Linked DNA regions of Homo sapiens. The protein of the gene in region 1 interacts with the protein of each later gene in a pairwise test. Each region holds a gene or a part of one and is shown in the gene's direction. Other genes may lie near its edges.

Region 1 (3,961 bases):
CCCCGCCTACATTACTAAGTAACAGGAAAGGCTAAGATTTGGAGCCTTCCTCCGGTTCAGATCTATCCCGGGAGTAATGGAAGATGCTTGCCTGTTGACAATTTTTTTTTATTAAAAATCCCACCCAGGAGGTCTCTCCTGATAGGAGGGGACCATCCTATCCTCTAAGGCAAATTCCAGCTTCTTCCCTGAAATGTACATCCGCTACTGAGCCTCAGAATGCTATTTGTTCCACCTACTTCCACAGTTTTAAGGTCTTCAGCAACAGGAGAAGACAGCAGGAAAACTTGAAGTGCAGTTGGCTCCCGCTGAGATGTCACTAGCAGAAAAAGGGAACACAAGCAAAAGGCAAGATTCTAAAGACAGAGGTGACACCTTCTGCTCCAAACATTTGGAGGGTCACCTTTCCAGAAGTCAGACTCGAAGTCCTGAATTCTGGCATGAATGAGTTCTCCTACGTGTAGGGGGTGGCCTGGAAAGATCTTAATTTGTAAGTTGACAGGTAAGGGGCCTTCAGTTGGAGAATCTTGTCACCTGATTCTCAAAGCCAAAAATATCTTACTGTCTGAAACATGAGGTCTTGAGTAGTTCAACTTGACCCATGCAGACATAATTTGAGAGACGCCAAGGAGGATTAGGAAAAAATGTATCTGGTCTTACTCAACTCTGAACATTGCATGAGTCAAACGTTTTCCTAGCTCTCTGTTTGTGTGATGGGTCCACTCTGATGGATTCTTGGCGATGTATCTTTCATGACCAAAATTCAAAAGAGGCCATTCGAAGTGGCTCCCACAAAAGCTGCTGCAGAGCCCCAGACATTCAGAAGCCAATAGTGAAGGGGCCAAAAGCCATCCCTCAATGTTCACTGACACTTTGCGAGCCTTGGGGCAAGTTGGCGATGTCAAAACATGTTTTTAGGGCGTGTTTGCCAACATACAGGTCTTGGGCAGGATTGCAGACCTCTGCAGATGGTACCAAAGTAAAGGGGGAGATGGTAGCTGAATAATCTCTTATCATCCCTAAAGTGCAAAGTGAAATGAGAGTGGATTTTTCCTTCCAAATCCACTTGGAGTGAGTCCCGAAAGACTCACTTTTGCGGCAATCCCCACAATGACATCACTGGAGCGGAGGTTATATAATTTAAAGCAACCACATCTCCACAGCACTTCCCAGAAGAGAAAACTCCTCCAAAAGCAGCTCTCACTATCAGAAAACCCAACTACAGTTGTGAACGCCTTCATTTTCTGCCTGAGTAAGTAAATGACCACCTTTTTTTTTTCTTTTATGAGAGTACAATATGAGAGGAAATCTGTGTCTCTTAGAAAAACAAAAAACTTCCTTTTACACCTACCTATTGGCAAAATTTTCCACTTCTGTGAGGGTACTTTTTAAAAATAATTCTAAATCAATTTAAGAGACTTTTATTTCATGCCTAGTTTGGGTCTTAATTGCTTTTCCAGAACAGGAGGAGGAGGGAAAGGTTTTAGAACTCGTAGGAAGGTTCCAGTAGCTCCTTATATCAAAGTCAGGTGAAACATGTCAGGGCTGAATGCAGCCACCAGAGTTCGCATGGACTGACCAGTTACAGCCTGCAAATTCTGAATCATAAAAATTAAATTAGTCTCTCTGGGATGGCTTACAAGATTTCATAAGACCAATAACTGGTTGGGTTATTCGTGGCTTGAAAGTAGCATCTTACTATGTGACCGTGCTGATGGTCTTTAACATCTGTGGCTGAATTTCCAATGCCTTTAACATCACCATGCTGTTGAAATTGGAGTTAATTTGAAGAATTAACTAATTTGTTGAAGAAAGTCACACTGTCTCATAGCCTAGGTTAAAATGTGCAGAATTCAGAAAATACCACACAGGAATTACAGAATTGCCATCTCTTGTAGACTTGCCCAGTGCCCCTTCTGAGTTCTTCAAATAGGGTCACATATTACTAACAATATCCAGAGATATTGTTTATTGAGCACCTACTATGTTCCAGGCAAATATCAGAGCTAAAGCTGAAAACTGGCAAAGGAAGATTTCTCCTCTCTAGCCAACTTTATAAACACAGACAGCAGCAGGTGAGGACAATCCCTTTAAAAATAAGCCCCATGTGAGCAGACACATGCTGTGGCTGCAGTGGCCCCAGCCACCTCCCCGTCCTGGGGATGGGGGCGGTGTCCACTGACCTAATCAGGTTCGAGCTAAAGTCCCTGCGTAGCTGGTCGTCTCTGGCTTCCTGGGCAGGGTGCAGCCTCACCCCCGTGCTGGTTTCCTAAGGCTGCTATAATTAATTATCACAAAGTGAGTGGCTTAAAACGATGCAAGTTATTATCTTACAGTTCTGGAGATCAGGAGTTCAAACTCAGTCTCGCTGAGCTAAAGTCAAGATATTGGCTTGGCTTTGTTCTCCATCCCCATGATTCAATTATCTCCCACCAAGTCCCTCACACAACACGAGAGAATTATGGGAGCTACAACTCAAGATGAGATTTGGGTGGGGACACAGCCAAACCATATCAGTGCTCAACACCCTCCCATCTCTTCTCAAACTCTCAATGCCCCAGCCCCTCCACCACAGGTCAGGACCTCGCCTCCTTTCTCCCTGAGAAATCCCAACCAATCGCCGGGGAATTCTACAGATTCCCACCTGCCAGCCTCTGTCACCATAGACCTCAGCTTCCTGGCCATCATCAGAGATAGCTAGGAGAGGGATGGTCAGGCCATGTGTGTGCACACTGCCGGGGCACCCCAATAGTCAAAAATTATTTCCCCCAAAAATTAGTATTTACAGGTAGAAAGAGAGAGGAAAGAAGGAAGGAAGGAAAGAAGGAAGGGAAGGAAGGAAGGAAGGAAAGCAGGATGGGAGGGAGGGAAGAAGGGAGGGAGGAAGGGAGGGATGGAGGAAGGAAGGAAGGAAGGAGGGAAGGAGGGTAGGGAGGGAAGGAGAGAAGGAGGGAATGAAGGGAAGGAAGGAAGGAAGGGGAAAAAATCCAACAAAATGGTTATATTATATTGATGGTGTTATAAAGTAGTTCTAGATAAAAACTATTTTCAAAAAAGTCTTTAAATATATATGCATACACCTATGAATATTAAAGCAAAAGAAAACATGTTTATGTTAATCAACTGAACATTTAAAAATAAGATAAGCAAAATAATTGTTCTTGTTGTATATTCACATGCTACAGTTTCTTGTACCTGACTGATACCCTGTCACTGGCATTTTTCACAAGAATGTATTTTCTTCAGTGGGGTCTTGTTATTTTTAATTTTTCCATATAATTGCCTGAAATCTTTTTTCCACAAATTTTACAATTAACAAATTTAAATTAGTACCTTCAATTGACTCTTCTCTTGAACCATAATATATTGAGAAAATGTTCCCTGTGCAGGTTCTGAGTGATAAGCTCTCAGCAAATTCTGCCAGGCAGAGGCTGTTCTCAAGTCCAATTCTTTGCATATGGAATTGCATAAATATTTTAGCCCAGATATTTTCACAGGTGCTGTCTTTGTGCCTTAGTTTGGAATGTAGTGGTGCGATCTTGGCTCGCCACAACCTCCGCTTCCCAGGTTCAAGCAATTCTCCTGCCTCAGCCTCCTGTGTAGCTGGGATTACAGGCGCCTGCCACCATGCCCGGCTAATTTTTGTGTTTTCAGTAGAGACAAAGTTTCACCATGTTGGCCAGGTTGGTCTTGAACTCCTGACCTCATGTGATCCACCTGCCTCAGCCTCCCAAAGTGCTGGGATTACAGGCATGAGCCACACCGTGCCCAGCCCACACGTATTTTTTTTTAACCAGATTAAACCTTTCAAATAAGTTGTACCTACTTATAAGTTTTGAATGTTTTGTCAGATTCAGATACTGCAAAAAAAAAAAAAATCATTGGCTTTCTCAATTTCATCTCATTTCATACAGAACATGAATTTATCCAATTAAAAAGATTCTTCCCACAAGCTGAAATG
Region 2 (3,500 bases), on another chromosome or scaffold:
GTTCAGAATTACTTGTTGCTTTTGCATTATAATTCATTGGAATTTATGACCCATTTATTAATGTCATTAAAATTTTGTTTTTTTTTCCCTTTTATTTGTTGCTCTGGGGGTTAAAATGATTTTCAAGGACATTACGTTTTCTTTAAATAATGTATTTCTTCTCAAATGATCTTAAATTATGTGATACTCTAACCTTCTGTGTCTTGGGAACTCTAAAGCACTGTATTTTCTATGAGAAAAAAAGATCAATTTTAAAACTGTGGGGAACCCAACCAAATCTGTCTTAAGCAATGGGATGTTGTTTTCACTTTAATTGATGTATTTCATTTTTGTGGAAGTAAACTTTTTAAAGATATATTTTTGAATGATTTAGCACCTGGCATTAGCAGTGGGTTTTAGGAGTCTGAATTTGACTCAAAAGCTTCAACATTTATTACCTGCCCATTATCTGCAAGATTTTGGGCAAAAATTGTGACACAGCCGTAACCAATGGGTATAACTAAAAGTTGCATGAATTAAGTGTGGTGGAAGATTCAGGAAAGGATAATTCATTTTGATATGGTTTTGGGGAACGTGGTATTGTGGATGGAAGAGATTGTGGGGTTCTTAATAAGGAGATCATGCTTAAACCTCAGTGGATAAGAATGATTTGGGAGATCTAGTAGATGATCAAGAGCATTCTAACCCTGAGGAATACAATGAACACAATAGCATCTTGAAGGTGTACCTAATATTTCAACCACTACACAGTAAACAGATGCAATGGCAGCATGGGCTGGTAGAAAATGTAGTGGGAGATAAGGTTGGCTAGGTGGTTTGTGGGGGCAGTAGTTGCCTCAGATGCTATGTTGTGTGTTTGGATTTGTTTTTTCTGTAGGCAACAGGGACCAAAAAAAAAAATACTTTGTAGAAGTATCCACAAATAATTTAATGGATAAGTACACTGTGGTTCATTTATTTATTATAAATTGTGATACCATATAACAATGAAAATACAGCTTTAGCAACAACAGGGATGAATTTTACAAATGTAATTTTGGTCAAAAGATGCACAAAGTAATATATGCTGAATGATTCAATTAAGTTTTAAATGGTGCAGGAACTGAACAGGATTGGTTAGGGATACACACATAGGGGATAAAACTACAAAGAAAATAAAAGACATTCTCGAATCCGAGACGTGCAGGCACACACACACACATATGCATTCTTATCTATGGTATATTTTATGAAAAATACTGAAATATGAAAAAATGCTAAAAAATGATATTCATGAGAACTCAGAGGAGTTTGGTAAAATAGAGGCCACATAGAGTGCCTGTCTCAAAAAGCAGGGTTTCCACAACTGAAGTAGATTGGGTAACAGTCCCATAGTTTTGTGGTGATGAGGGGCCTCAGATAATACTATCTCACTCATTTCACCAATGAAGAACATGTTTTTAGAATTTTTTCCTTCATTTAAAATTTTATTTATTTAAAAATTAACTAACATAGCCTTACAGTTCAGATGTTTAAATGTACAGAAGGGTAAACATTTTGATGTCTTCCCACGCCTGTCCCTGTCTACGCAGTTTCCTCTCAGAAGCAACCCATGTTGTACTTGTAAGCACATCCTGAAATGGAATGAGCCCAATGTAATAGAAAATGTTGGTTTTTTTTTAAATATCAACTTTTTGTGGTTTACCACCAATAAAATGCCCATACTGTAAGTATACAGTCAAATGTATCATATGTGCCTGTGTAACCATACTGGCAGTTGAGATCTAGAATATTTCATCACCCTTAAAGGCTTCTTTGCATCCCTGTTCTATCAGCACCCACCCCTGGGGACTGATCTGTTTCTGTCACTGTTGACTAGGTTGGACTTCCCTAAAGCTTTGTATAAATGGTGTTATTTAGGGTGATAGGGTGATGTCCTTTTTTTTTTTTTTTTGAGACGGAGTCTCTCTCTCTCTCCCAGACTGGAGTGCAGTGGTGCGATCTTGGCTCACTGCAACCTCCACCTCCTGGGTTCTAGCGATTCTCCTGCCTCAGCCTCCCGAGTAGCTGGGACTACAGGCACATGCCACCAAGCCTGGCTAATTTTTGTATTTTTAGTGGTGACAGGGTTTCACCATATTGGTCAGGCTGGTCACGAACTCCTGATCTCAGGTGATCTGCCTGCCTCAGCCTCCTAAAGTGTGTGATGTCTTTTGTGTCTGGCTTTGCTTACTCAGCGTAGTTTTGTGATTCATCTCTGCTGTGTGTATCAGTTATTTGCTGCTTTGTATTGCTGGGTAGTGTACCACTTTGATGATGTACCACAATTTGTTTATCCATTTGCTAGTTGATGTTCCTTCAGGTAGTTTTCATGTTTGACTATTATGAATAAAGCTATTGGAAAACATCACGTAGAAATCTTTGTGTGAAGTGTCTGTTTTTGGTGAGGAAAGTGGTAAGCCCTGATGGTTGCCTTGGATAGGCACAGAATGGAGTGAAAGGTCCGTTTCCTAAGTCTTGCTGATCGCTGTATTGAAATTTAATGGCTTATGATGCAGCTCCTCTTTTGGGCATGTTACATCTGCAGCCTAGAAAGCGTCTCTGATGTGATTTTTTTTTTTATTCAAGTTCTAGGGTACGTGTGCACAACGTGCAGGTTTGTTACGTATGTATACATGTGCCATGTTGGTGTGCTGCACCCATTAACTCATCATTTACATTAGATGTATCTCCTAATGCTATCCCTCCCCACTCCCCCGACCCCATGACAGGCCCTGGTGTGTGATGTTCCCCTTCCTGTGTCCAAGTGTTCTCATTGTTCAGTTTCCACCTATAAGTGAGAACATGCAGTGTTTGGTTTTTTTGTCCTTGTGATAGTTTCCTGAGAATGGTTTCCAGCTTCATTCATGTCCCTACAAAGGACATGAACTCATCCTTTTTTATGGCTGCATAGTATTCCATGGTGAATATGTGCCACATTTTCTTAATCCAGTCTATCATTGATGGGCATTTGGGTTGGTTCCAAGTCTTTGGTATTGTGAATAGTGCCGCAATAAACATATGTGTGCATGTGTCTTTATAGCAGCATGATTTATAGTCCTTTGGGTATATACCCAGTAATGGGATGGCTGGGTCAAATGGTATTTCTAGTTCTAGATCCCTGAGGAATCGCCACACTGACTTCCACAATGGTTGAACTAGTTTACAGTCCCACCAACAGTGTAAAAGTGTTCCTATTTCTCCACATCCTCTGCAGCACCTGTTGTTTCCTGACTTTTTAATTATCGCCATTCTAACTGGTGTGAGATGATATCTCATTGTGGTTTTGATTTGCATTTCTCTGATGGCCAGTGATGAGCATTTTTTCCATGTGTCTTTTGGCTGCATAAATGTCTTCTTTTGAGAAGTGTCTGTTCATATCCTTCGCCCACTTTTTGATGGGGTTGTTCGATTTGTTCTTGTAAATTTGTTTAAGTTCTTTGTAGATTCTGGATATTAGCCCTTTGTCAGATGAGTAGATT

The links. The genes of interacting proteins can lie anywhere in the genome.
Region 2: the proteins of BDKRB1 (region 1) and RETREG1 interact in a two-hybrid assay, tested with the Homo sapiens proteins (one large-scale study listed by BioGRID and IntAct).

The regions. Positions count from the first base shown.
Region 1 is NC_000014.9:96,255,049-96,259,009, forward strand, and holds the start of BDKRB1 (B1 bradykinin receptor), read left to right. Parts: upstream 1-1,161; 5' UTR 1,162-1,252; intron 1,253-3,961. UniProt on the Homo sapiens protein: This is a receptor for bradykinin. Could be a factor in chronic pain and inflammation.
Region 2 is NC_000005.10:16,610,498-16,613,997, reverse strand, and holds part of RETREG1 (reticulophagy regulator 1), read left to right. Parts: intron 1-3,500. UniProt on the Homo sapiens protein: Endoplasmic reticulum (ER)-anchored autophagy regulator which mediates ER delivery into lysosomes through sequestration into autophagosomes.